Linked DNA regions of Homo sapiens: all the other regions are linked to region 2. Evidence: fine-mapped QTL for protein levels in blood plasma. Region 2 holds a variant in brackets. A gene starts in each other region. All regions are shown on their reverse strands. Region 1 holds the start of PCARE (photoreceptor cilium actin regulator). Region 2 has its middle 120 kb from the start of FAM30A. Region 3 holds the start of VMO1 (vitelline membrane outer layer 1 homolog).

Evidence for each region. PIP is the posterior inclusion probability: the model's chance that the variant is causal. Protein levels are from antibody-based Olink assays in UK Biobank. Linkage for the fine-mapping came from a reference panel and not from the study's own genotypes, which makes the PIPs less certain.
Region 1: PCARE starts here. The variant in region 2 is fine-mapped to the plasma level of the PCARE protein (UK Biobank, PIP above 0.99).
Region 3: VMO1 starts here. The variant in region 2 is fine-mapped to the plasma level of the VMO1 protein (UK Biobank, PIP above 0.99).

What each region holds. Positions count from the first base shown.
Region 1 is chr2:29,073,192-29,083,175 of GRCh38, reverse strand. It overlaps PCARE (photoreceptor cilium actin regulator), which reads left to right and starts at 8,653. Exons shown (of 2, transcript NM_001029883.3): 1 at 8,653-9,984. The coding sequence starts at 8,915. RefSeq lists enhancers at 1-191, 1,962-2,462.
Region 2 is chr14:106,037,718-106,048,036 of GRCh38, reverse strand. It overlaps IGH, IGHV2-5, the pseudogene IGHVIII-5-1 and the pseudogene IGHVIII-5-2. Among named protein-coding and RNA genes, the nearest start is that of FAM30A, 120 kb to the right of the region's middle. The variant G/A (reference allele first, on the strand shown) is at 5,154.
Region 3 is chr17:4,778,224-4,788,499 of GRCh38, reverse strand. VMO1 (vitelline membrane outer layer 1 homolog) reads left to right here and starts at 2,136. Exons shown (of 3, transcript NM_182566.3): 1 at 2,136-2,342; 2 at 2,448-2,563; 3 at 2,841-3,215. The coding sequence starts at 2,148. The coding sequence ends at 3,138. TM4SF5 (transmembrane 4 L six family member 5) reads right to left here. Exons shown (of 5, transcript NM_003963.3): 2 at 7,631-7,711; 3 at 5,861-5,997; 4 at 5,463-5,646; 5 at 5,289-5,386. The coding sequence ends at 5,372.

The DNA.
Region 1 (9,984 bases), not on the chromosome of region 2:
GCACAGTGGCTCATGCCTATATTCCCAACACTTTGGGAGGCCAAGATGGGAGGATCACTAGAGGCCAGGAGTTTGAGACTAGCCTCAACAACATAGCGAGACCCTGTCTCTTTAAAAATTAGCCAGGCATGATGGTGCATGCCTGTGGTCCCAGCTACTCAAGAAGCTGAGGTGAGAGGGTCACTTGAGCCCAGGAAGTCAACACTGCAGTGAGTTGTGATGGCACCACTGCACTCCAGCTTGGATGACAAAGTAAAACCCTTTCTCTACAAAAATAAATTTTTAAATCCCAAACAATGCCAGCTAGTCCATAGTGACAGAAAGATGATCAACAATTGCCTAGGTGGATGAGAAGGGGTATATAGGGAGGGATTACAAAGGGCCATGAGGAAACTTTTGGGACTGTTGGATATGTTTATTATCTTGACTGTGGTGATGGTTTTGAGACAGCCAGGTGGGTGGGGGTCCCTGGAGAAACTCCAACCAGCCTACCCACTGAGGTGGAGCCTCGGGAAGTTCATGCCCTTTGCAGCGGGGAGGAGCCCTGTCCCTCCTCTTCCTGTATGGAACCTGGGATTCGAACGGTGGGTGGGAAGTGCTCTAGCAGGGACTCTGGTCTAGCGAGAGTCTGTTTCCCCCCTTTCTCTCTTTTTACCCAATAAAACCCCATCTTACTCAATGGTCTGCAAGCCTGAATTTTCAAGGCCATAGGACAAAGAACCCCGTCTTTAACTGAACTAAGGAAAAGTCCTGCAAAAGTTTCATGGATGCATGTGTGTGTGTAAACTCATCAAACTGTATATTTTAAATACATGTGTCAGTTATACCTCACTAACAGCACAAAGTAAAAAAAAAAGCTAATGATGTGAGCTGCTCATACAATTATTATTAAACATAGTTTAAATGTGTTCATAATATTGGTTCCCTTTTTCTATTTATTCGCATTTAATGTCAAAACACCAAAGAAGGGTTATTTGATGTACCTCAGGTTAGAGGCATGTTTGTTCTTGGTGTCTTTATTAGTAGTCTATTTTAAATGTTGACATTGTTGTAAATTAGAATCTACAGAGATCAACTCCCTGTTCTGCATAAATGCCAAAAGGATATTAATCTGGTCCAAAGATATGCTCCTTTCACAAGGCCGAAGTATTTTAATCATCACCTCCCTGGGTTATTCTTCAGAGTCAGTCTTGGGTAATTTATCTCCTTTAAATATTATTATGAATACTTATGGGTTTTTTTTAGGGGAGGGGGCCTATTTTTGTCATGGTAATTCTAAATGTATAAATAGAATTTTTTTTTAAGTCATGAGCAAGCAGGAATGAAATTTCCCAGCAATAACATTAAAAAGTTATAAGCAGGGTTATAAGCAGTGGTTGATGTCCCATTCCCCCGTTCAGCACAGACAAACCATCCTTATGGATAAATGTAAAGGGGAACTGAATCTGCTATCTGCTCTTCAGTCTAAGAGCAGACTTTAGACGAAGTTATAATACAATAAAAATTTAAATACTGTAACTTTTTCTGAGAAAAATGCACACAATATTTGAGTTGTCTACAATATTTCAAAGACTCTGAGCTAGTCTGACTCTTGTTGCATAACCCTGGGAAATTGTGAAACTCAGTTCTGACTTATGTCCCACTATGATGAATTCATATGACCCAATGTCTTTCCTCAAATTTGCCACACACACAAATGTCTACTCACAAATTCATAAGCAATAACTAGAGTGAAGAGTCTATTTTGAGAAGTTTGTACAAGTAGCAGCCACTATCTTTCCAAAGCCCAGGGTACTGATGGTGGCGGTGGCCTATTTGGAGCAGCTGCTGTGGGGATGCCAGCTGCAGTGGGGAAGGTGAAGCTGGGGCTATGCGTTCCACCGAGCCAGAGGAGGGCAGTAATAGGTGGGAGTCCCGCCCCCTACCGAGTTGGCTGGTCAAGAGCACCTCACTCCCCAGTGCAGCAGCAGCCACATCAACACAGCTCCAGACCCGGGCATCCCTGTACTCTCAGGGGCATGGCTAGCCCCAAGCTCCCACAGGCTTGGAAGTGCCTGCTCCTACTCCCTGGCCTCTCCCAACTCCTGGCACCCGCTCCAATTTCAGAGCCTGAGCCTGGGTGCTGTCATGGCCCGGCTAGGTGTGTACACGCTCAGGGCAGCACTGACATGCCAGACATCCTCCACTGCCTTGGCACCTTCTGAAACTTTGAGCACCAACGAGCTCAGGAAGGGAGGCCAGGAGGGCTGAGGGAGGCTTAACGCAAGCCTGCAGGTGCCCCTTGGTGTGAACAGCCTGGGTGCCATGGAGGTCATGTTGATGGTGGCAGGAGTCAGACAGGTTCCTAGGAGGGAAGGGGTGGGTCCCCAGTGAAGCCCCACTTTCAAACCAGGGACAGCCTGAAGCCTGGGGGCCAGGCTTTCAGTCCCAGGTGGTGTCCATGACCCAGAGCGAAACTTTATGGTGCTTTTTCCAGGCACACCCATGGCCACCCATGGACCAATCATCACACAGTTCCTCCCTTCTGAGCCCATAAAATCCCTGGATTCAGCCACACTTGCATACTGGTCAGGATGACCTGCCTGTGGAAAGGAGCTGCCCACTATGGGTCTCCTCTCCACTGAGACCTGGACACTCATCAGCATGGCCTGCCTGTGGAAACGAGCTACTCACTTCGGGTCTCCTCAGAGCTATTCTGTCATTCAATGAAGCTCCTTACTATCTTGCTCACTCTCCAGTTATCCACGTGCCTCATTCTTCCTGGACATGGGACAAGAACTCAGGACCAGCTGAATGGTGGGACTGAAAGAGCTGTAACACAAACAGGCCTGAAACATGCCCCCCACTCACCACATTGTGAGTGACGAGAAGGAGAGAAGAGCTGCAGCCCTTCTGGGAGCCCAGACCTCAGGGATCCCCAAGTCATGGCTATGACATGCTGTAACTCCCTCTTTGGGGCTTTGTGGTTCCTGGTATCTGACCTTTCTGGTGTTATTGCTTTCCCCTTGTCCACATGCTGGTGCCCACAGCAGAAGCTGCTTGCAGTACGTCTGGTCCAGCTGCAGCCTTGCACAGAGCCGGCACCTGTGCGGGCGCCTGGAGCTGCCTGCCCCACCACAGCCGGCACACCTGGCTGTGTGCAGTGGCTGGACCCTGCACTTGCTCACTCACACACCCTGGCAGGTATGGGATCTGGGCTGAAAGCAGGAGCCACGCGCAACCTGATGGGCCAAGTGAGCAGAAGGAGCCCAGCAGGCATGAGCAAAACTGAAACAGAGGCACTGCTAGCCACAGAGGTTTCCAGCTGGCAAAGCAACACCCTAAGGATCCCATGACAGTACATACATGTAAAAGTAAATACACAAATAAACAACCAGTCAAAAGTCAAGAAATTCGAGTCTGCTCTTATTTCCCTACAGGGAATTAGCAAACCATCCCACAGTTCATAAGGACATTGACACAGTTTTCCCGTAGGTTCTTCTGATAACATGGCTGAGCAGTGGTCTTACAGTTTGGGAAGAATTCTCAATTAATTCCTTCCCTGTGTGCTGTGTTCTGACTCAAAGCCTAGCATTTCTTTCCCCAAGCTATCTTGTCTTCACACCAGAGCTAAGTTCCAGAGGACAGGGACAATCCTCTGTTACAGGTGGAGAGACTCATACCTAGGGGACAAAGGCAAAGATCTGAGGATATTTCACAGGCTTGGGGAGTAGAAGAAAAGGTAGGAATGAAGAAAGGGCCTGTGGACTACATTTCCCAGCCCTTTTTGCATCTAAGTAGGGCCATGTGATAAGTCCTGCCCATCAGAATGTAAGCAGAAATGATGGGTGTCAACTCCATGCAAAGACAGTCAAGGATCTGACCTACCTTCCCCATACTCTCTTCCCTTTCCGCCCTGTAAGTCATGTATTGAAGATGTTCATGTTCCAAGATGGAAGGGCTTAAATCCCTGAGTCACCATGTGGAGTAGGGCTGTTTAAGAGAATGTCCCAACACCTACACTGGCATTGTATAAACAATAATAACTCTTACTGTGCCAAGTCACTGATATTTGGGGATTGTTAGTTACAAAAGTTAGCCTACCCTTTAAAAAAAAAACTCTAATTTATATGTAAGAATTGAATCTATTTCAATAAAACACTTTCTATCATACAAAAAAACTAGATAAATGTTTTTCAAGCTTGTGGTACATTTAGGATACTTTGATTCTAAACATACACTACCTTGTGTACATGAAATTTGCTTTGGAGGATACTTAGAGGCATCTTAAAGGTTTAAAGAGTCAACCTCCAGAGGTACAATGTACCTGTGTGATGACTGATCCAGACCATACGCCATGCACACTAAGATTCAAGAAAAACAGGCAGGTGTTTCTACTATCATCACCAAATCAAAAGCTACTTAGGGCAGACACCTGGATATCACATGTTGGTTTCTGATAGAATTGTGTATCCCACGAGCAACTCTGGATGGATTGCTCTAAGGTATATAACAGTAGCCAGAATGGTTCTTTTAATGATCCTCCAAAGCAAAGCAAGGAAGGCCAGCTTCTGAAAAGATAAATGTAAAGTGAGTGCCTAATGAAGTGCGTGGGACACAAACATGGCCTCCTTCCCCGCCAGCTCACCACAATAGATGCGTGCTTATCTCTCTGTTACCTGTTCATCTCACATCCAGACCAAGGAACTGTGTTGCAAAAAGCACTCCTTCAGATATGGAGGACCAGGTATGTCCTAGGTAGGCCTTGACTAGTGGGAAATTTTTCTTGGCTTTTAAGGTACAGGAGAGCCCCTTTGGTGAGGCTGATAGACTTTGAGGGGTAAAACATTTCTTAGATTGTTTAAATGACTTTCAGTCTTGGCTCAAAACTGATGTCACACTAGAACCATCTTTTGCTGATCAATTAGTTCAGGGCCACATCAAACAAAATGGCATGGAATTTATTTAACATGCTAAAGGGGAAAGACTAGTACCTTATAAACTAATGTTTAGTATAGTTACACTAGATGCATTGGTTTGAGCTATGATATGGCCTGATCTTTTTTTTTCAAGTGACCTTTTGAAGGTGGAGCCTAATTTTTCTCTCCTTGAATGTAGACTCTACACAGTGACCAGCTTCTACAGAATAGAATATGGAGGAAGTGAAGGTGACCTTTGGGATTAGAACTTGCTCTGGGGGAAGCCAGCTGTTCTGTTGTAAGAACACTCGAGCAGCCCTACAGAGGGGTCCATGTGACATGTAACTGAGGCCTCCTGCAAACAGCCAGCAAGGAATGGAGGCCTTCATGTGAGTGAGCTATCACAGCCATGTAGATGAGCTATCTTGAAGAGAATCATCCAACCCCAGTCAAGCCTTCAGATGACTGCAATCCCGGCTGACATCTTGACTGCAAACTCATGAGAGATCCTTTTGAGTTGCCCCCAAATTCCTGACCCACACAAACTGTGAGATGTTATCTCAAGCTCCTTATTTTTGGAGTAGTTATACAAAAACAGACAACTAATAGAGGGACCCTTTTCCAAGACCTAGAGCATTATAGCTAGGACCCTCTTAGGCGCCAAGCAAAGCATACAATACCGCATTTTAGTTAGATGTGTGTGTGTCTGTGTGTGTGTGTACACGCAAGTGCAACATAGAGTGTGCAACTTCATTGTACAACTCAAGGAATTTTTGCCTATATAGTATATACCCATATAACTACCACCTAGGTCAAGATGTGGAACATTTCCAATACCCTAAAAAAAATTCCTTCATGTCCACAACCAGTTGATAGCTCTTCCTAGAGATTCACCACTTTTCTAATTATTTAATATAACTATGGATTACTTGCCTGTTCCCGAACTCCATAAAAATGGAATGTTTCACCTTGCACTATTTAATGTCTAGCTTCTTTCACTCATCATAATGATTTTAAAATTTATGCTGTTGTTACGTTTCATTAGTTTGTTCCTTTCATTGCTAGGTAGTATTCCATTGTACAATTATATCAAATTTATCTATTTCCCTATTGATAAACATTTGGGTTGTTTCCAATTTGAGGCGATTATGAGTAGAACTATAAATTTTCTTATAGCAGTCTCTTTGCAGACCTTTATGTTCAATATTCTTGGGTAAATTCTTAGGAGTGGAATTGACGGGTCACAGGGTATATTTTTAAATAACAGTTTTCCAAAATAGTTGTACTTTTATATGCCCACTCAAAATAATTTTTTTCATTTGAAGCAAATCCAATTTAAAATAAAGAAAGACAAAAGTTGGTCTTAATGAAAAATGAACAGCAATGAATAAAGAGCTTCCTAAATTACTTGGAATAGTCAAGGAAACTCATGTGTAAGGTACAGAGCTATCTGACAGCAAATCCTCCAGGCAAACACTTTGATTTTGATCATTGGTTTGGAAATAATTTTAGTCACTTAGATAAAAGTTTTTCACAAAGATGAGTCAAGCAGGGGCCCAAATCCCAAGAGAAGAAGAATTTACATAAAGCATCCTCCAGATGAGTTTTTCACTCTGTTAAATGGATGACCCGAAGGGAAAAGAAAGCCTTCCCACGTGGCACCCTTGTTTACTGGGCCAGCTCAGCACTGTGACAAATGAAGCAACGTCTTGATGCCTAACGCAGCTCGCCTGCAGGCACTGATTCGGCTTTGTGTCTCGCCTGAGTTCTGCTTCAAATAAACAGATCGGGGAAGTTTATTAATGATGCACTCTGGGGCATCGGGCTGTGATAGGCAGCAGGCGCTGCACACAGCCCCAGTGGCCAGTCTCCAGCTAGTACAAGAGGCAGCTCTAAGTCCTGCCTGTTTTGGAGACATCCTGACACCCATGGTGTTGTTTTCGTTGGTTGTATGAAGTGGGAAAAAATGAAGACTGGAAAGCCAGAATAGCAACTCCAATCTCAGCAACTTCAGGGGGATGCTCAGAGATGCTCAATGCAATGTTTTTCTATTTGGAAAATTTCGAAATTGGCAACAACCTAGATGCCCAAAAATAGGAAATGGTTAAATAAAAGCCCCTCTCCCTCCTGCAGACAGTGGGAATCATTGTGTTTGAGAGCCGAGAAATTAAACAATGAGGCCTTAGAAAAATCCTGAGGCAGCAGTGGATTGAGCACAGGGTGGGGGTGGGGGGCAAAAAGAACACCAGATTCAGAGGGCTCTAAGTGCATCATAGGCAATTATTTCCAGACCATTCAGGAATAAACCAACGCAAACCAATGAAATTCTTATGACTTTCATTATTATAAGTGCCCTAGCTTCCAGGGGGAAAGGAGTAAGAAACTTTTTTTTTTTTTTTTTTTTTGAAGACAGGGTCTCACTTCCAAAGTCCAGGCCAGCTTGCAATAGCACTATTACAGCTCACTGCAGTCTCAACTTCCTAGGCTCAGGTGATTCTCCCACCTCAGCCTCCGGAGTAGCTGGGATTACAGGTGGGTGCCAACATCCCCAGCTAATTTTTTGTATTTTTAGTAGAGACAGCCTCACCATGTTGCTCAGGCTGGTCTCAAACTCCTGAGCTCAAATGATAAGCCTGCCTCAACCTTCCAAAGTGCCGAGATTTATAGGCGTTGAGTCACCACACCTGGCTGAAACTGCATGTTTTTGAGTACCTACCTTGGGTCAAGCACTTACCAAGTATTAATTGACAATCCTCACAATGGCTCTGTGAGGTAAGTACCGTGGTCCTCATTTCAAAGATGAGCTCTGCCTCAGGAAAGCTTAAAAACTATCAGAAGTTTCCTCAACTAACAGGAGAAAGACTCAGGATTCAAACTCCAGTCTTTCTAGGCCAAGCTGTTGTTCTAGATTTTACTGACAGCAAATAAAGTTTAAAAGGAGGTTTTAAATGGGCAGCTGCTACCCTTAGCCACAGGCAGGAGCCCCATGCTCAGTTTGAGCAGAAAAATGGGCTTCCCCTTGAGTTCTCCTCTTAATAATGAAATGGCTCTCCACTGCCCAGTTTTTAGCTTGTTTTCCTATGAAGAAGTTTGAATAAGAAGCCTCTTCCCATGAAAGCATTGCCTTCCTGAGCGTAGTGACCAGCCTTGAGCTTTACATGGCAGTGACTTTTCCTGCTGTCCCCATCCAAACTGGGGGGGATAGCTTTCCTGCTACCTAACTCAATTTTCTAATGCAAAGGAAAAGCAACCTGCCTTCTTCATTCACTATCTTATTTAGAGACATTCTCTATACTAGAGTCCCGGGGTTTTTATAAGCCACACAAACAATAATGCATTACTTCAATTATTATCTATTGTGTGTTTTGGGGGCTTCTTGATAACAGCAGATTGGAGCACACTTGGCTGGTTTGCCCTTATTAAACCGTGAAGGTCACTTCTCTTCCAGGGCCTGTAATCAACGAGCCCTCTCTTCTCTTCCACAAATGCATCTCTTCCAGAGCCTTTGCAATTATGGCTCATTTCTCTAGGTTTCATATGGCAGGCGTCTGAACAGAATTAAAAGCATGAGCACGTGCAAAAATAATCCGCTTCCCAAGATAGTAAATGCTGAGAAGTTCTATATTAGAACACACTGTGAGTGCTGACTGGCTAGGGCATGATTAACCTAATAGGCTTAAGCTGCACTTGCTATCCACATCTGTCAGGACGCGAGCAAAACACAGGCCCGTAATCCACCAGGCTGGGAGCCTTCAGAATTGTCCCGCTGCTCACTAACAGCAGAGGGTTCCAAACTTAGAACAACAACAGGACGACAGGTACCACTCCCTCTTCACATTTGGACCAAGAAAATAAAGAAAGCTGGTTCCAAGTTTAGGATATTGTACCATGGACTTCAAAGAATTCTGGCCTGAAAATTGCCTGGATGGACTAGTAAGATTGCCTTTTGTTCCTATTTCAAATATGATTCTTGGAAAATTGTGAAGGTGGGTGGAAGATGACTACAAGCTGAAATCATGGGGTGTACACCTTCACACAGTGACCTTGTAAACAGCGTTGCAAAGAGTGGCATTCAGTTCTTGAAAAAGCCCAAAGCAATTCGGCCAGGATGTCAGGGCGGAAGTGAAAGAGGTTCCATCCCTTTGCTGGTTAAAAACTCCACCTGCTATGACGCTGGGGAGGGCCTGGCAGAGGAGCAGCCAAGTCCCAGGAGGAACCAAACCACAGCTAAAGGTCTTTGTCAGCTCATGGGAGATCCTGCTTCAGGCAAAAGGAAAGATATGGAAGGACTGATCCCAGGAACCAAAACCTCTTCATCCCAGCTGAACAAATCACAAAGCCACATGGCTAAGGATATTCCGTTCAAGACACAGGGTTCCCATGGATCACAAGGGGCAGACTTTTCTGGAGATGAGAGTGAGGAAAGTAGTACCCAAGATACTTCCAAATGGAAAAGGACAGCAAAATGTCACACGTCAAGCACACAGAGCCACTGCTACCAAACCATCCACCCTGCTCATGAGCCTGAAGGCAAAGTGGACTTCCCGGAGCCTCTGGTAAAGGCCCACCAGCAGGCTTACACCTATCTACACTCCAGCCTCTCCAAATATGAAGCAATTCTGTGCATCATCCATCAGGCCACCCAGACCCGGGAGCTGCTGCAGCCCATGGTCAGCTTCTTGCTGCTGTGCTTTGAGGAGATCAGCCAGCTGTTGGGGGAGATCTCCAAGGATGGAGAAGTGCTCCTGCAGGAAGTCAGGGAGGATCTGGCTTGGCCTTTGAAGAAAAGAGAGCCCCAGGAGCAGCCAAATCTCCTGCAACAGCTGCTACAGTACACAGTCAGCAAGCTGCAGGTGCTCAATGGCACAGTGGCCTCGCTCACCGGCAGCTTCCTGGAGGGCTCCAGCAGCTACCTCCACTCCACTGCAACCCACTTGGAAAATAAGCTGAGCACAAAAAGGAATGTGGATGAACGCCTCCTGAGGGCTCTGAGGCAGCTAGAGAGCCTGGCGAGTGGCTGTGGCGACCCTGGGGTGCAGGGTCTCCCCTTATGCTCTGAGGACAGTGGCATTGGTGCTGACAATGA
Region 2 (10,319 bases):
AATATCCACTTGGTTTAGCAGAGAGAATGAGAAATAGCATAATTTAAGAATAATCAGTTAGACACTGTGCCATGTGCCTGTATTTTCAACTAGTGAGGATGCTAATGTGGGAAGATCACCCAAGCCCAGGATTTCAAGGCCAGCCTGCAAGATATTGCTAGACCCATTTTCTTAAAAAAAAAAAAATAACATTCTGGGTCATGACAAACCTCAAAAACTGACCCTCTAAATAGGAACAAATTTAATTGCATTAAAATGTGGATGAATTTTTGACACAAAACAGTGACAGCATGCCAGCAATGAGTACAGAATAACATCCAGTTGTTATGTTAAGAGATACAGACTCCGAAAAAGAGACATCAGGTAGAGGCTGTCAAAGGCCTCACTGCCTAATGACTGCTTTTCCATTGATACTGTGTGTATATCCCGGAATGCACCTGTGAATGAGGACATCATGTCTTTCATAGTGTGAGAGAAAGAGACATTACTACCCATCTGACAAAGGATTGATCAGAATATACCAGGATCTCAGACAACTCTATAGGAAAAATATCTAGTAATCCGAATAAAAAGCAGGCGATATTTATTTCTTAAAATAAGACTTTCAAATTGCAAACAGGCATATAAAATGTGCTGTGTAACACTGATCATCAGAACAATGCAAAACAAAACTACAGTGAAATATCATCTCATCTGATTTTAAAATGATTTCATCCAAAAGCCAGACAGAAACAAATGCTGGGAAGGATATGGAGAAATGAGAACACTCATAACCTGTTGGTGGGCACTTAAGTTAATAAAACCACTATGGAGAACAGTTTAGAGTTTCCTCAAAACCTAATAGTAGTGTTGTCATATAATCCAGCAATCCTGCTGCTGGCATGTACTCCCTCCCACAAAAAAAAAATGTTGTTTGCACTACCATGTTTGTTATAGCACTGTTCGTAATAGCCAAAATTTGAAAGCATCCTAACTGCCCATTAACAGATGATGGATAAATAAAATGTGGTACATATAGCATATGGATTAATATTATGCCATAAAGAGAATGAGATTTTTTCATTTGCAACAACGTGGATGAAACTGGAGTTCATTATATTAATTGAAATAATCCCAGAACCGAAAGACAAACTTCACATATTCTCATATATTTGTGGAAGTTAAAAATTAAGACAACTGAACTCGTGGAGATAGAGAGTGAAAGGATGGTCACCAGAGGCTGGGAAGGTCTATGGTAGATGGGGATTATTGGGGATGCTCAATGGATGAAAAAAGTGGTTAGAAATAACAAATAATACATAGTATTTGATAACACAACAGACTAAGTATAATCCTTAATAACATAATTATAGATTGTAAAATAACTAAAAGTGTATAAATGGAATGTTGGTAACTCAAAGAATTAATACTTGAAAGGATGTAGGAACCATTCATCATAATGTGAGTATTATGCAGTTCATGCTATATCAAAGTCAGGTACCCCATAAATATACACATATACCATTTACCCACAAAAATTCAAAATTAAAGTATTTATGTATCTCATCTTCTGTATCTATATTACATTAAACCTAAGAAGATACTGGTTTCTTCACACTACCAAGATCCACATAGACATCCGTAGCCTTCTTTCTTTGCCTGTCCATAATCTGACATTGAAAAATGAGGAAACCTTTCCTATCATATGACATTAATTTACTTAGTGCACAATTTCAAAATACACAAATTGTGTTAGAATTATTAAACTGACCCTTGTTGAAAATATGTTTATCGACTAGAATACCGTGCTTATATGCAGCTTATTTATATTTTACAATCACAACATCAAATTATTTCCAAAGATACTTGTTTCTGATATTCATGCCCCCCTTTCTGCAGTGAAATTAGTACAAACCTGTTTATCATTGTTAGATATTTTTATACAGCTTTCATTTTATTCTGTGTTTCATGACCAGCTAAATACTTTTGAAGTTGTATGCATTTAGGTTAACACTTTGTCTCAAAAAATTATGAGTTTTCACAAATTATTTATGCCATGTGTTTATCATTGAACACCATGAAAATAGTTTCATTGTGATTAAAAAGTGTGTGTTTCACCTAATCCACACACCTTTTCCCCAGATTCCTGGAAAACCACAAAGGTTTACTGGATCTATATTTTTGTCTTTGGCAAAATAGCCTGGCTATTCTCTTAGCTTCTTCTGCAAAGCATCAAGATTCACCTTCACTGACTGCAGCATTTATTGGGCCCTGATGGCTGGAGGAGAGGGGCTGGAGTGGGTGGTAGCCATGAGTGACCCAAGTGGAAGTTCTCAGTGGTGCTCTGCTCCAGCACAAAGAAGATTCACAGTTCCTGGGGACAACACTTAACATCACAATCTCCCTTAAAATTATCTACTGGAAAGCTGAGGAGTAGGCAGTGTATTACTGTGAGAGACACAGTGAGGGACATATGGGTGAGTCTAGACGCAAACTTCCCTGCAGGAAGACAAGAGGGGACTTTGTGGTAAATGGTGCTCAGAACCACTAGGGGACACTCAGAACCACTAGGAGACACTCAGGATAGCAGAAGGTGCTCAGGATGCCGCAGGGTGCTCAAAACACTAGGGGTGCTCAAGACCAGCAGGGGGCACTCAGGACACCAGGAGACACTTAGGACATCAGGGGGCGCTCAGGACACCAGGGGGCGCTCAGCACAAGCAGGGGCCACAGAATGACAAGGGTGCATTCCAGACCACCAGGAAACACTCAGGACCAACAAGAGATTCTCAGAAACCACCAGGTGTAACAGGACCACCTAAAGGCCCACAAGACAACCAGGAGACACTCATGGCCACTGAAGAACATTGAGGACACCAGGGGTTCAGGGCCAACAGGGAGTGCTCGGGGCCACCATGGGGCTTTCAGTAACCACGAGGGAATCAATCACTCAGGACACCACGGTTTTCTTAGGAGGCAGCTCCACATCAGGTGCCTGGGGAAGGTGACGTTTGCTTTTAGACCTAGCTGATTCCTGAGCTGGTCAAGCAAAAGTCTTCCCACGATCTCTCACTATTTCTTCCTTGTAACCCATGGTTTCTTTCACATACAAATCATTAACTTAGGATAGGAATTCAATTCAACTTTTAACCTTGCATATTTTTAGAATAATAATAGCAATAGTAATTCAATGTGTTTTGATAATAAGAAATTGTGTATGCCTAATTCAAACTCTGGTTCCACGCATGGGTTTTTGTTTCTTGTGCTGTGCCAGTCACACTACAGTCAATGCTTTTCTAATAATAACTCAACAATGTCACGGTGTTAAGTTTCCTTTCATTTTGTCTGCCATTTGTGGAGATGAAACACCACTTTCACGGGTCAGTTCCTCCACTTTGGTTGGGTTCTGGTCTTCTGCTCTTCACACTGTTTCTCCACCTTCCCTTCTGTCAAATCCTTTTGTCTTCCTCAGTCTCCTGGCAAAGAAGCAACAAATCTATTTATTTTGTCTCCTCCACGTCTGGTGAATCTGTTCACTTCTCTTCATGATCATTGAACCCAACCATGTTTAGAAGGATAACAGTTCACCTTACAATATGCTCATGTAGGTCAGGTGCAGTGGCTCACTCCTGTAATCCCAGCACTTTGGGAGGCCAAGACGGGTGGATCATCTGAGGTCGAGTTTGAGATCAGCGTGGCCAACATGGCAAAACCCTGTCTCTACTAAAAATAGAAAAATTAGCCAGGCATGGTGTCGGGCACCTGTAATCCCAGCTACTCGGGAGGCTGAGGCAGGAGAATCACTTGAACCCAGGGTGAGAGGCTGCAGTGAGCTGAGATAATGCCACTTAACTCCAGCCTGGGCGACAGAGAGAAACTCCATCTCAAAAAAAAAAGCATATGTTCATCTATCCGCAGACTCTCTGACATCGTCACCCTTTTCTAGGGTCCTGCAGACATCACCCCACAACATCCAGTCCTTTTCCTAAGTACCACAGAGTGGGCTCTGCAGCTCCTGCTGCTCTCTGTGTGCTCAGCGCTGAGGCTCACCAGTGCTTTGATGATGAAGTTCAAATCCCTAATGTGTTTGCAATTCTCAGACAACCCTCTAGCAAGCTGCCATTGTGAGTGCATTCTGGGGATCCTGGGCTGATTTCAGGTCCATATTGCTGGATGTTCTCTAGCATCCAGGCGTGTTGGCAAATAAACATCTAGAATTTGTATTGAAAATTTGTGGAAAATCAATGGTAGAAAACAATCCTAATTTCTAAATAAGAACATTTTATCCTGACTTTATAAAAACACAATGTTAATTTAACCAATAATGTAATAAAATGTGTTTAAAGTGATGTTTATCTTGTTATTAGATGTATTAATAATTGGTATTTTAAAGTATACTAACAGCATAAATGACAAACAAACCAACACAGCGATTATACATAAATACCATTGTACATTAATTAATTTGGCAAGAATGGCATTTATTTTCATTTCTACCAAACCTTGCCTTTAAATATGTTTGTTAATTGGCATTAGGATAGTGAAACAATCACACAGAGCAACAACATTTTGGAATATTACATTATACTATAAAATAGTACATTCGATTCAATTATATAATTAAAATAACATTAAATAAATTCATGTTTTGGTTTGATATTTGGATATGTGTTCATTTTTGTATTTTCTTTTTTTGTATCTTTTGTAGAGATGGGGTTTCACCATGTTGGACAGGCTGGTCTCGACTTCCTGACCTCAGGTGATTTATCGGGGGAACCCACCCCCAATATTTCAATGTAGGGTCTTTCTATTTTCTGTAAGTGTCGGCTGGTCTGAGAAATAAAGAGAAAGAGTACAAAGAAAGGAATGTTACAGCTGGGCCACCGGGGGTGACATCACATATTGATAGGTCCGTGATGCCCCCTGAGCCGCAACACCAGCAAGTTTTTATTAGGGATTTTAAAAGGAGAGGGGGTGTACGAACAGGGAGTAGGTCACAAAGATCACATGCTTTAAGGGGCAAAAAGCAGGGCAAAGATCACATATTCCTTCCCCAGGGTATTAATTACTAATATTCCTTGCTGGGAAAGAATTTAGTGATATCTTCCCTACTTGCACATCAGTTTATAAGCTCTCTGCAAGAAGAAAAATATGGCTCTATTCTGCCCGACCCC[G/A]CAGGCAGTCAGACCTTATGGTTATCTTCCCTTGTTTCCTAAAATCGCTGTTGTTCTGTTCTTTTTCAAGGTGCACTGATTTCATATTGTTCAAACACACATGTTTTACAATCAGATTTCATATTGTTCAAACACACATGTTTTACAATCAATTTGTACAGTTAATGCAATCATCACAGGGTCCTGAGGTGACTTACATCCTCAGCTTACAAAGATAACAGGATTATGAGATTAAAGAAATTATGAAAGTATTGATTTTGGGAACTGATAAATGTCCATATTAAAATGAAATCTTCACAATTTATGTTTAGAGATTCCAGTAAAGACAGGTGTAAGAAATTATAAAAGTATTAATTTTGGGAACTGATAAATGTCCATATTAAAATGCAATGCCTAGGGCCAACAAAGGAGTCATATTAATATGAAAAATAATAGCTGAATATTTTGGAAATGACACATGCAGTAACAAATGTCTATATGAAATTAAGAAGATATTGACACAAAATTGAGAAAAAATTAACATAATTATGCTCACTACTGGTTTATAAAATGCCTATAATAACACTTTTTAAATCATATTATAGAAAATAAAATAACTATATAAATAGCACTCTCTTTGCTTGATTTTAGTATTTGGTGCTTCAAATGTTTTTTATACAAATAAACATTGGTCATTTTTTGATGGTAATTTCAATATTTTCTTCCAGAATACATGTTCATAAATGTAATTGAAATTGTATAATTTTCAGAAACTTATTTTATCAGTTGTGACTTGTATTTTTATGATAGTCTTTTTACATTTATATACTTTTGATTCAGAATAATTATAGATAAAAAAATTATAAAGTTAATACAGTGTGTTCCCATCTCCAAGTATCTCCTAAGATGAATATCCTCTATCATCATAAGACATGGTGTTAACACATTTACATTGATAAGTGTAAATATATTCAATACCAGACCTTATTTTATTTATCATTTTTCCAATAATTTCTATTGTAAATGAAAAATAAAATTCTAAGCTTCCTCAAGCAACTAAATGAACTCAACCCTCAGCCAAGGGAATTTCAAAGTAAATTCTAAAACTTGTTCCAGCAATGATGGGAAAGTGAGAGGTCAGACATGCCTCATTACATGCTCCTCTCTTTGGAATTAAGGCACCAGTGGCCAGCATTAGTACTACAACAAAGATCTTAAGACGGGCAAAACTATATTTTTGCTGTAAACACTTTCTATAGCAAAAAGACATCAAATTACAACTTGATTCTAGTATAGCATCACATGACAAATAGCAAAACCTAATGATTTATTCTGTATGAAATCTGCTACCTGGAGGCTTCATCTACATAATAAGAACTATGATCTCCAGGACCCCTTATCTTAATCCAGACACTCAGTTGTAATGATTGTATTACCTTACATTTCAACCAATTGCCAATCAGAAAATCTTTGAATTCTCCTATGTCCTGGAACCCTGTGCATAAACTTTCCTGCCTTTCTAGACTGCATAAATGGTATAGCTCACATGTGTTGATTAATATCTGCCTGTAACTTCTGACCCACTAAAGTATATAAAATCAAGCTGTAATCAAGCCATTTTGGACATGTGTTCTCAGGAATTCCTGGGGTCGTGTCATGGGCCTTGGTAACTCATATATATCTCAGAATGAGCCATTTTAAATATTTCATAGTTTGTCCCTTTTAGTGGATATCTTCTTTTCTTTTTTTTGGGACAGAATCTCTCTTTGCTGTTGCTTTCGTATATTTGTTTGTTTCCAGATTCCATCAAGGCCATCAGTTTGAATTCAGTTGTCTTGTTCCTTTATTCTCTTCTGGTAAATGACAGTTTGTATTTCTGAAGTTTTCTAGTTGAATATTTTATAGATAAAAATTTATCAAGTAGGTTGATAGTGCCATTTGGGACTCTTATATCTTTACCTATTTAATCATTGCTTGTTTTCTCAATCACAATGAGTGTTGATTTCTCCATGTTCTATACATGTTAGTCTATTTTCTGTTCCAAATCCATTTATTAGGTCTTTTAAAATGGATTTTGGAAAAGTTGATCCTATTATTTTATGCAATATTTCACTTGAGTTGCAAAGGTATTCTTTTTATGATTATTTTGTCTGAAATTAACATAGCTATTCAAGTTTTCTTTGGTTTATATTTTCATGGTCTATATTTTTCCATCTTATTTCTTCTCTTTGTGAATATGTTAAGAAGTTTTCTTGGAGAAAGATAATTGCTGGGTCTTTTTTTTTTTTAGTCAACTATGAGGAATTATTTTTTAATGATATTACCCTTTTGTCCAATAATGGTTGTTTTGTCTTTTTACAATAATATGTATTGTTTCTATTAATTTATTATTTAATTATTATTGATGAATATCTTATTGGTTACCATAAGGATAACAATAAGACATTTCTATAATTGAATTCTAATTCAAAAATGTAGTACTTCTTTTTCTTTTTTATTTTTTTGAGACGGAGTCTCACTCTGTCGCCCAGGCTGGAGTGCAGTGGCACAATCTCAGATCACTGTAAGCTCTGCCTCCTGGGTTCTCGCCATTCTCCTGCCTCAGCCTCCCAAGTAGCTGGGACTACAGGCACCTGCCACCATGCCCGGATAATTTTTTGTATCTTTAGTAGAGACAGGCTTTCACCGTGTTAGCCAGGATGGTCTCTATCTTCTGACCTTGTGATCTGCCTGACCTGGCCTCCCAAAGTACTGGGATTACAGGCATGAGCCACCGTGCCCAGCCTACCCCTTTATATATAGAACAGAGATATTATAACTATATATGTCTAATTCCTCTTTTCTATCCCTTTTTTATTTTATCAGTTTGTAATTACATAAGCTATAAAAATGTAATATTGACATTTTTATAATTGCTTTACACATTTATGTAATAAAGAAAACACAAATGCAAAAACTAAATTTAAACCTCATTTTTTTCATTGTTGACAATCTTTATCTTTTGGATACATTCAGGTATTGGATGTATATCATATGGCTGCTCATCTAGAAACTCTGCTAAAACGTCTATGGCAAGATTAATATGCTGGGAATAGATTTTCTCAGGATTTGTTTGTCCGACAGAGTATTTATTTGTCTTTGATTTATCATCTCAAGAGACAATGTCAAGAAGATGCTGTTTCTGCAAATGGGCAATCTGCAAACCAAGGACACGTCACTACATTACTGTGCAAGAGAAGCACATGAGGAAAGGCCGGTGTGAGACACAAACCTCCAGGAACACCTGGGCTAATGAGCTGCAGGGGGTGCTCAGGACCCACTGATCAGTCAACCACAGAGGGGAGTGCAAAGGTTAGGACTGCTTTCCTGCAAGCATTGAAAAAAGAAGAAAAAAACTCCGTCTGACAGTTTCTCCAAGGAACTTCTGTAATTTTAGAATTCTGTGCCTACCAATGACATCTCCAAATATTTTTTTAAAATATTGTGTTTTGAGGACATACTCTCACATGGACAAAACACAAATTGACACAGAGATGAAAAGCCCTCAACCATAGTCACCAAAATTGGAGACATGTAGAAGCTCACTGGGACCTGTTGAGTCTTCTCCAATCACACTCAGAACAGAGACCTTAGTGGGTCTCCCTTAGAGTAGTCATTAAGGATGGTGATAACAGCCTAAAGATGGTAGACCATGGTCAGTGTCATATAGAATATGGGGACCCTCACAAGTTTTTTGTCTGACCCTTCTCCTGACACTAAATTATGCAAATTAATAACACTGATCTGGTGCTTCTTTTGATTCTAATTTATTTTATTTTTAGTTGTCGTTCTCACTTTTCCTTTGGATTTTCCTGCTCCCTGGAAAAGGTAAATGTGGTCTCCGTGACCTCAATTCAAGGGCTGAAGCCCTTTCCCTGTAGCTCAGCTGGGGCTCAGGCTGTGGCTACTGCAGCCATGTGGAAGAGGCTGAAGGGACTTTCTTCACTCTCCTTGCTCAGGACCATCCACTGTATTGTGTATAGGCTTCTCTGGAAATGCAAGTGGCCATTTGTAGTGAAAGAAATATGTTTGTCTGGTTAAAATGGGAGGTGGATGTAGAGTTAATTGGCTGCTACATAAACTGTCCTTCTCCACCAGTGCTTTTAGGATGAGATTGTGAAATTTGTAAGAATCAAAATGGAGTCACATATGTTAAAACCCTGACAAATGGATTCAGGAAGTGTAGGGAGAATTCTTACACACATATCCCTGACAACAAGAACTATCATAAAATAGTTCTTGCAAAAAGACCAACATGACCTCATAATCATGACTTCTGCAAAGACTTCTACTCAGAATCTACTTGCCCAGCCTTAGATTAATGCCATCTGAATTACACTGATCATGTTACTATCACTGCTCCTCACCACAGATGCAACACCCTCCTGAGTCCTGAAACCTGACTCCATCCCATAGAGTAGGGCACAGATGAGGGGAATGCAAATCTCCACCAGCTCCACCCTCCTCTGGGTTGAAAAAGCCGAGCACAGGTCCCAGCTCAGTGACTCCTGTGCCCCACCATGGACACACTTTGCTCCACGCTCCTGCTGCTGACCATCCCTTCATGTGAGTGCTGTGGTCAGGGACTCCTTCACGGGTGAAACATCAGTTTTCTTGTTTGTGGGCTTCATCTTCTTATGCTTTCTCCACAGGGGTCTTGTCCCAGATCACCTTGAAGGAGTCTGGTCCTACGCTGGTGAAACCCACACAGACCCTCACGCTGACCTGCACCTTCTCTGGGTTCTCACTCAGCACTAGTGGAGTGGGTGTGGGCTGGATCCGTCAGCCCCCAGGAAAGGCCCTGGAGTGGCTTGCACTCATTTATTGGGATGATGATAAGCGCTACAGCCCATCTCTGAAGAGCAGGCTCACCATCACCAAGGACACCTCCAAAAACCAGGTGGTCCTTACAATGACCAACATGGACCCTGTGGACACAGCCACATATTACTGTGCACACAGACCACAAAGACACAGCCCAGGGCACCTCCTGTACAAAAACCCAGGCTGCTTCTCATTGGTGCTCCCTCCCCACCTCTGCAGAACAGGAAAGTGCAGCTGAGATACGTTTTCCTGCCAGGGCCTGCATTTCCCATCCCCATTAGACTCAGAGCCCTGTCTTCCTCCTTCTTCTTTAATAATAAATGG
Region 3 (10,276 bases), not on the chromosome of region 2:
CCACTTCTCTCTCGCTCTCTTTTTTTTTTTGTTTGTTTTTTGTTTTTTTGTTTTTTGAGACAAAGTCTCGCTCTGTCGCCCAGGCTGGAAAGTGCCGGCTAATTTTTACATTTTTAGTAGAGACAGGGTTTCACCATACTGGACAGGCTGGTCTCGAACTCCTGACCTTGTGATCCGCCCAACTTGGCCTCCCAAAGTGCTGGGATTACAGGCGTAAACCACCGCGCCCAGCCGGGAACACCCACTTCTAAATTCTCTATCTTATTCCCAGGGGACTTTGTCTTGACCTGGATACATGACCTCTTGCAATCATATACGTACGTCAGGCTTTATCCTTTTGCATTTTTGTGGTTTAATTTTCAAAACTCCAGATTGGCTCTTCAATCATTCATTGCACCAACTTTTATTAAGTACTTCCGCACGTACTAGGCTTCAAGAATACAAAAGTGCCTTCACAGAGCTCAAGGTCCACTGGGGGAGAATTTATCCTCTGTCTCCCCCACTGGAATGTGACCTCTGATGACAGGGGCCTTGTTATTCTTGCTTACAGCAAGTGGAATATTGCTTAAGCCAAAACATATTATTGCTAAATAGGTATTGAATAAACAAAGGAGTGTGTATGAGGGGCAGGTAAATCTGGGGTTGTGGCCCCTAACAAATTTAGCCAGGCATTTTTAGGCCAGGCACGGTGGCTCACGCCTGTAATCCCAGCACTTTGGGAGGCCGAGGTGGGCGGATCACCTGAGGTCAGCCTGGCTAACATGGCAACACCCCGTCTCTACTAAAAATATACAAATTAGCCGGGCGTGGTGGCGAACGCCTATAATCCCAGCTACTCGGGAGGTTAAGGGAAGAGAATCGCTTGAACCCGGGAGGCAGAGGTTGCAGTGAGCCGAGATGGCGTCACTGCACTCCAACCTGGGCAACAGAGTGAGACTTCGTCTCAAAACAAACAAACAAACAAACAAACAAAAAACATACTTAGCCAGATTTTCTCGCTTTTTGTTTTGCAAATTAGGAGTCCATCTGGTGGTCACAGGGGGAAAGGCATTCCAGGAAAGGATATAAGGATACAGAAAGCAATGGAAGAAACAGCATGATCTTTTCTTAGGGGTTCTTAGTCTCCTGTCCCCAAACTTCTTAGAGTTATTCCTGTTGGACCGGGCGCGGTGGCTCATGCCTGTAATCCCAGCACTTTGGGAGGCCGAGGCAGGCGGATCACAAGGTCAAGAGATAGAGACCATCCTGGCCAACACGGTGAAACCCGGTCTCTACTAAAAATACAAAAATTAGCGGGGCGGCGTCTTGGCGCGCGCCTGTAGTCCCAGCTACTCGGGAGGCTGAGGCAGGAGAATCGCTTGAACCCAGGAGGTGGAGGTAGCAGTGAGCCGAGATCGCGCCACTGCGATGCCGCCACTGGGCGACAGAGTGAGACTTCGACTCAAAAAATAAAAATAAAAAAGAATTATTTCTGTTTGTATATGTCTTCTTCTAAGGTAGGGAGGAGTGTCCCGGATTCTCAAGGTGTTAGGGCCCTGAGCTCTCAGAAGACCTCTCAGAGGAGGAAGAGACTTCTGAGCTGACAGGAGTTTTCTCAGCTTCTCCAGTTCGAGGATTCTTGTCCTATCCTCACTCTGATGTCCCCTCACATCCTGGAGGTCTCTGGGTTGCTCTTGCCCCATCCCGTCACTGGTGGGACTCCCGGGAGGTCACTTCCATCCCTAGCCCTGGTCTCTGCTCTGTCTCCACTCTCACTGCTGGAATGTTTCCCAGCTTGCTTGGCTGTAAACCTAAGGCAAGTTGCTTGCCATTTTTGAGCCAGTTCCCTCATCTACAAAATAGGAAGGATAATTCTCACCCCCCAAAAATTGTTGTGAGGGTTAAACAAAATACTGCAAAGCGCTAACCATAATTCGTAGCCTATAGTAAATATTCAGTAGGTGATGGTTATTTTAATTCGCCCTCTCTCACTGCCCCTCCTACCCTAGCTCTGGGAGCCTCTGCCTCCGGGAGCAGGAAATAGGGTTCCGGGAGTGGATTAGTTTTGGGTTTCACTTAATCTGGGAGGCCCTTCCGCAATCGGAGCCCTCACAGAGGCCAAACTGATATAAATCTGCTTAGGAGGCCTGATTCACAGACGCTACAGGATGGAGCGGGGCGCAGGAGCCAAGCTGCTGCCGCTGCTGCTGCTTCTGCGGGCGACTGGTTTCACATGTGCACAGACAGATGGCCGGAACGGCTACACGGCGGTCATCGAAGTGACCAGCGGGGGTCCCTGGGGCGACTGGGCCTGGCCTGAGATGTGTCCCGATGGATTCTTCGCCAGCGGGTTCTCGCTCAAGGTTGGGGCTCAGGCGTAGGTCCTGGAGAGGGCGGAGATGCGTGGGACCATAGAGCCAAGGATGATAATTCCGTGACTCGCCCTTGCCCCTCTCCTCGATACCCAGGTGGAGCCTCCCCAAGGCATTCCTGGCGACGACACTGCACTGAATGGGATCAGGCTGCACTGCGCGCGCGGGAACGTCCTAGGCAATACGCACGTGGTAGAGTCCCAGTCTGGAAGGTGGGGCGCAGGGGTCGAGGATCCCTTGGGGTGATGGTATGTCCCTTACCCTCTATTACATACTCCGTCGCAACAGGCAGGCTGGCTCCGCCAGAGCTACGGGGCAGTATAGACCGGGGAGGCGAAGGGTGGATGGAAGACCCCTCCTCCGCTCCTCGGCGGAGGTCGGGGAGCACCCAGCCCACCAGGTCATATACACAGCACTTGGCTTGGAAAGTCTCAAGGGCTTGGTGAATGGGGGGCCCGCAGAGGCAACGCATCTCCCTTTGCCTTGCAGCTGGGGCGAATGGAGTGAGCCGCTGTGGTGTCGCGGCGGCGCCTACCTAGTGGCTTTCTCGCTTCGCGTGGAGGCACCCACGACCCTCGGTGACAACACAGCAGCGAACAACGTGCGCTTCCGCTGTTCAGACGGCGAGGAACTGCAGGGGCCTGGGCTGAGCTGGGGAGACTTTGGAGACTGGAGTGACCATTGCCCCAAGGGCGCGTGCGGCCTGCAGACCAAGATCCAGGGACCTAGAGGCCTCGGCGATGACACTGCGCTGAACGACGCGCGCTTATTCTGCTGCCGCAGTTGAACGGCGCCGCCGCCGCCGCTCTCTCCCGGGCCAGGAGGCTAGTCCCACCTCTTGCTATTAAAGCTTCTCTGAGTTGACTTTGGTCTCGCCTGTTTATTTCATTTATTTATTTATTAATTTATTTATTTGAGACGGAGTATCGCTCTGTCCCCCAGGCTGGAGTGCAGTGGCTCACTCGGCTCACTGCAAGCTCTGCCTCCCGGGTTCACGCCGTTCTCCTGCCTCAGCCTCCCGAGTAGCTGGGACTACAGGCGCCCGCCACTACGCCCGGCTAATTTTTTTTTTTTTTTTTTGTATTTTTAGTAGAGACGGGGTTTCACCGTGTTAGCCAGGATGGTCTCGATCTCCTGACCTCATGATCCGCCCACCTTGGCCTCCCAAAGTGCTGGGATTACAGGCGTGAGACACCATGCCCGGCTGGTCTCGCCTGTTTAAGGGATGGGGAACTGAGTCTCCTTTTCCCCTCCTAACTTAGCATTAGGTGAGGCATACATTTGGATTTGGTCTCAGGGGTCTATGGTAGATTGCTGAAAAGTTATGGACTCGAGAAAAACGCACTTAAACAGATAATTTTCAGACAAGTGATGGAAGTCTGGCTTTTTTTTTTTTTTTTTTTTTTGGAGTCTCACTCTGTCACTCAGGCTGGAGTGCAGTGGTATGATCTTGGCTCACTGCAACTTCCACCTCCTGGGTTCAAACGATTCTTCTGCCTCAGCCTCCTGAGTAGTTGGGACTACTGGTACCCACCACCATGCCCAGCTAATTTTTGTATTTTTAGTAGAGATGGAGTTTCCCCATGTTGGCCAAGCTGGTCTCAAACTCCTGACCTCAAGTGATCCACTGGCTTCAGCCTTCCAAAGTTTTGGGATTACCGGCTTGCACCATCGTGCGGGCCCAGGAAGTCTGGCTTTCTGAGAGAGTCTGCAGACACCCTGCCCCCATTAGGTGCCTAGGTTGTCTCCTTTCTGAACCAGTGACCTAAGATTAAGAAAATTCTACCAAATTATGGCCAGATGTGGTGGCTCACAGCTGTAATCTCAGCACTCTGGGAGGCTGAGGTGGGTGGATTGTTTAAGCTCAGCAGTTGGAGACCAGCCTGGGCAACATGGTGAAATCCCCTCTCTACAAAAAGTACAAAAATTAGCAGGGGTATGGTGGTGTGCGCCTGTAGTCCCAGCTACTCAGGAGGCAGAGGCAGGAGGATTGCTTTAGCCCAGGAGGTGGAGGCTGCAATGAGCCGAGATCGTGCCACTGCACTCCAGCCTGAGTGACAAAGTGAGACCCTGTCAAAAAAAGCAAAAAAAAAAAATTCTATCAAATTAGGAGGTGACAAGGCCACAATGGCTTTACAGTTCCATTTTCTAGAGCTTAAGAGGTTACAGTGTCTTTTCCATAGTTTTCATTATTTTCTCCTACAGAACTGATCCCTGTTTAGGATCTTTGTCCTTGCTGTTCTCTCTGCCTATAATCCCCCAAATATCCAGATGGTTAGCAAGCCTTCCTGATCTTAGCTCAAATTTCATTTTCTCAAATTTTCCCTGTCATAAAAGAGAGTCTCTCCATAAGTCAATATCAATCCCATTACCAACATGCTTTTAAAAAGTGCTTATCGGCCACGCACGGTGGCTCAAGCCTGTAATCCCAATACTTTGGGAGCCTGAAGTGGGAGGATTACTTTTGCTCAGGAGTTCGAGACCAGCCTGGGCAACCTCGTCTCTACAAAAAATACAAAAAAGTTAGCAAGGCATGGTGGCATATGCCTATGGTCCCAGCTACTTGGGAGGCTGAGACGGGAGGATTGCTTGAGCCCAGGAGGTGGAGGATGCAGTGAACCGAGATCGTACCACGGCCTTCCAGCCTGAGTGACAGCGAGACCCTGTCAAAAAAAAAAAAAAAAAGTGCTTATTACCTATTGAAATAATTTTTTGCTTCTTTTAAAAATTGCCTATCTTCCACTCTTGGAATGCCAAGTTCTTTGAGAGAATAAAACTTGTCTGTCTTGTTTACCGTCCTTATTTCCAGCGCAACCAAATAGCTCAGTATCTATTCGTTAAGAAAGTACAAGTGGGGTGCAGGGGCCCCAAAGGCCAGGTGTATCCGTAGCCTCTCGCACACTCCTCCTTACAGAAGGCACAATCTCAGACAGAGAAGAGAGCGCAAAGCAGTTTATTCTAGCGAGCAAGGGAGTGAGCGTCCAGGAAGGAGCAGGTGTAACCCGGCGGTCAGTGGAGCCTCAGTGAGGTGTGTCCTGCGGAAAAGAGAAGGTGAGAACGCAGCCAGGACCAGGCAGGTTCCCTCTACAACTCCACCGCAAGAAATTTCACCTGTTTTTTCCTGCAATCGCCGCAGAAGACACCAATGGTCGCGTTCACCAGCTGGATCCCACACAGTACTATCTCCAGGCAGGAGGCGGCCACCAGCAGCGAGAAGAGCGTCACATTCCAGGGGACCACGCGAGGGGGCGCCTCGCACCGATCCCATAGAGTGCGGTTGAGCAAGTAAGCTCCCCTGTGGGAGGGGTGAGGCCACGTGGGAGAAGGCAGCGTGCGCGTGCGCCACCCCGCCCCCAAGAATACGTCCCAGGGGATTTGCTAAGGCCCAGGTAGCCCACGTGGAGCGAGTGCCCTCGAAGTCGAGTCCCGCCCAGGTGTCCCAGTCCACGGGGGAAGGGCGGGAGGGAAGAGGCAGAGAATGGAGGACACGAATACAGGCTAAACCTTACGCGGTGTCTTCGAAGTGGTAGCCCCACTCGCCGTTCATTAAGCATCTGGGTCCATTTCGGAGCCCAGCTCCAGACACCGAGAGGCAGTAGATGGCACCAAGCACCCCGAACGCCGAGGAGAAGACCGAGCGCAGCATCTGGATGTGGTGTGGAAGGGGAGGTAAGGCCCAATCTCCCCACCTGTGGGTGACGACGCTCAGCGCCAGCCCCCACGCATTATCGAAATCTGCTCCAGTCGGGTTGTTAAAATGTATTTTTTAATGCCGGGCGCGGTGGCTCACCCCTGTAATCTCAGCACTTTGGGAGGCTGAGGCGGGTGGATCTCCTGAGGTCGAGAGTTCAAGACCAGCCTGGCCAACATGGAGAAACCTTGTCTTTACTGAAAATACAAAAATTAGCCGGGTGTGGTGGCACATGCCCGAGGCTGAGGCAGGAGAATAGCTTGAACATGGGAGGCGGAGGTTGCAATGAGCCGAGATCGCACCACTGCACTCCAGCCTGGGCGACAGAGCCAGACCCCGTCTCAAAAAGAAAAAAAAAAAAAAAAATTAGAAATTCGGACTCTGTTTCTGCACCTGTCCTTGCAGAACCACAGCACTCTCTATGGAATTCCTAGCTACACAAGCTCCTCTGCGGACTCCCAGGCCCCACCCCACCCTTCCCTGGCACCCACAAATCTCAGATCTCAATGATCCTGAGGGGTAGGCGGGTGAAGGGGAGAGGGGGGAACTACAACCCCAGTGAATCTCGGCGGCCGCTGGCTTTCAGGTTAGCCTAACTGCAAGCCCGGGGTTTGAAGGGAAATTTATTTTAAACCTGACTCGAGGCTGGGCACGATATCTCACACCTGTAATCCCAGCACTTTGGGAGGCCAAGGGGGGCAGATCGCCTGAGGCCAGGAGTTTCAGACCACTCTGGCCAACAGTGAAACCCCGTCTCTACTAAAAATATAAAAATTAGCTGGGTGTGGTGGCAGGCGCCTGTAATCCCAGCTACTTGGGAGGCTGGAAGAACAAGAATGGCTTGAACTAGGGAGGCGGAAGCTGCAGTGAGCCAAGATCGTGCCACTGTACTCCAGCCTGGGTGACAGACCAAGACTATGTCTAAAATAAATAAGATAAATAAATGTAAAATAAAATAAAAATACATTTTTTTTGAGGCGGAGTTTTGCTCTTGTTGCCCAGGCTGGAATGCAATGGCACAATCTTGGCTCACCGTAATCTCCTGCCTCAGCCTCCTGAGTAGCTGGGATTACAGGCGCCCACCACCACACCAGGCTAATTTCTGTATCTTTTCTTTTCTTTTTTTTGAGACAGAGTTTCACTCTTGTTGCCCAGGCTGGAGTGCAATGGTGTGATCTCGGCCCATTGCAACCTCTGCCTCCAGGGTTCAAGTGATTTTCCTGCCTCAGCCTCCTGAGTAGCTGGGATTACAGGTGCCCGCCACCACGCCTGGCTAATTTCTGTATCTTTTCTCTTCTTTTTTTTTTTTTTTTTTTTTTTTTAAATCACTGCTTACTGCAGCCTGGACCTCCTGGGCTCAAGCGGCCCTCCCACCTCAGCCTCCCAAGTAGCCGAGATTGCAGGTGCTTGCCACCACGCCCGGCTAATTTTTGTATTGTTAGTAGAGATAGGGATCTTGCCATGTTTCCTGGGCTGGTCTAGAACTCCTGGCTCAAGCCGTACTCCCACCTCAGCCTGCTAAAGTGTTGGGATTACAGGCATGAGACACCACCCCCAGCCCTGAATTCCTTCTTAATCTGGATCTTACCCTGCAGCGGTTTCCACAGCACCCAGCACCACAGCAGCCCTTGCCCCCTGCCCGAACGGCTGCAATCCCCGGACACAGTACCTGTGGGACAAGAGTCATTGTTATAGCACGTCCCCCCAGATCCTCCAGGCCTGACTTGCATCAGTGCCTACCTCCTTCAGGAAGCTGCCTGTGATGCCTTCAGCCCTTTGGACTGTAGAAGACCTTATCTCTACGTCTCCTGGAGCTGCTGGGCTTCACCTTACTTTATCCTTATTTACGTGCCTACCTTATCTCTGTCCAGATTGTGGCCTCTAGAGGGTAGGGCCCAATATCATTATTTTCCCCAATCTTGGCACATAGTAGGTGCCCTACTGAATGGAAATCAGGGAAACTACTTCACATGCTATGAATTGATTCATCTCTCAGGGTCTCAGTTTTGCCTGTATAAAATGGGTCTGGAAGATCTACCTCACAGGTCTGTTCTCAGGATTTAATGGGAGAACAAGCTGACTAGGTGTTAAGACTGGCTCAGAGGCCGGGCGCGGTGGTTCACGCCTGAAATCCCAGCATGTTGAGAGGCTGAGGCTGGTGGATCACCTGAGGTCGGAAGTTCAAGACCAGCCTGACCAACATGGAGAAACCCCAACTCTGCTAAAAATACAAAATTAGCCGGGCGTGGTGGCGCATGCCTATAATCTCAGCTACTCGGGGGGCTGAGGCAGGAGAATTACTTGAACCTGGGAGGTGGAGGTTGTGGTGAGCTGAGATCGTGCCACTGTACTCCAACCCGGGCAATAAGAGCGAAACTCCATCTCAAAAAAAAAAAAAAAAAAAGACCAGCTCAGAGTAACTCAATATTTATAAGTTCCCTCAGCAGCAGGAAGGGATAGAGGTGTTGGAGTGTCTGGTGAATTGGGATTACAGTAGAGTGTGGAAGAGTGCTAGTGGATGGTCTGATATGGAGTGTAGCATTTTCCAAGATTCAAGCCTTGGTCTTTTTTTCTCCCTGTGGCTTTCCTAACAATGCCCATCCCCTTTCAGGGAATCAGCTCTTCACTCTGCCAGAAGTTGCCTCCAAAACTGATGCCTCCAGATCCTATGTTCACTTGAATATCTTGGTTTTAGCTCAAATTCAACCAGCCTCACGCTCATCTCACAATATTCCTCAAATTCATCTCCCTTTGACTTTCTTGTCTCCATCAGTGGAAAAAATAACATCTACTAGGTCAGCCAGGCTGGAAAGCTTTAATCTTGCACCCAGAAAGACATCAAATTTTCTCAACTTTTACTTAAGTGGCTCCTGAATCTGTGAGTTCCTCCCCACATTGAATCCCTCATCACCTCCCATGAGGGTGTTCTCAGCCTCCCTATTACACTCTCATAGCTCTTGCCCCATGCCACCCTACACTCTATCCTCTATCAGGTTAAACATAGCTTTTTTTTTTCTTTCTTTCTTTTTGAAACAGGGTCTCACTCTGCCACCCAGGCTGGAATGCAGTGGCTTGATCGTGGCTGACTTTAGCCTTGACCTCCTGGGCTCAAGTGATCCTCCTGCCTCAGCCTCCTGAGTAGCTGGTATCGCAGGCATGCGTCATCATTCCCAGCTAATTAAAAAAAATTTTGTAGACATGGGGTCTTGCTATTTGCTCAGGCTGGTCTTGAACTCCTGGGCTCCTCCTGCCCTGGCCTACCAAATTGCTGGGATTACAGGTGTAAGTCACTGCATCTGGCCTAAACATAGCTTTCAACTGGTCTTTTCTCTGCTCAAATCCTTTAGGGTCTCTTCACAGAGAAGCCCATCAAGACTGAACTCTTTTTTTTTTTTTTTTTTTGAGACGGAGTCTCACTCTGTCACCAGGTTGGAGTACAGTGGTGTGATCTTGGCTCACTGCAACCTCCACCTCCCAGGTTCAAGTGATTCTCCTGCCTCAGCCTCCTGAGTAGCTGGGACTACATGCACATGCCACCACGCCGGGCTAATTTTTTGTATTTTTAGTAGAGACGGGGTTTCATCATGTTGGCCAGAATGGTCTTGATCTCCTGACCTCGTGATCCGCCTGCCTCAGCCTCCCAAAGTGCTGGGATTACAAGCGTGAGCCACCGCGCCTGGCCAAGACTTGTAACTTGAACGCCTAACTCTTGTAAGGCATTTAAGCCTCCTCATCTGGCTCCGTTACCTTTATCTTCGTTGCACCAGGTCAGGTTCTTTGCCTGTCTCCTATCTCTGGAATTCCACAGCTGTCTTGCTTCTTGCTTTCGTGTGTGTGTGTGTTTGCTTTTTGAGACAGGATCTCACTCTGTCATCCAGGCTGGAATGCAGTGGTGCAATCATGGCTCACTGCATCCTCAACCTCCTGGGCTCAAATGATCTTCTCACCTCGGCCTCCCGAGTAGCTGGGACTAAAGGTGCGGAACAACATGCCTGGCTAATTTTTTTGGAGAGTTCATGTCTTACCATGTTGCCTAGCTGATCTCGAACTCCTGGGCTCAAGCAATCCTCCTGCTTCAGCCTCCCAAATTGCTGGGATTACAGGCATGAGCCACTGTGCCTGGCTCCTCATGTGTCTTATCTGGCACATACCATCCAAGGCAGCATTTTGTGCTTCTCCAGGGAAAGGGCTGAGAGTTTCAGTTCTATTATATCATCCCCAGCAACCTCAGAGA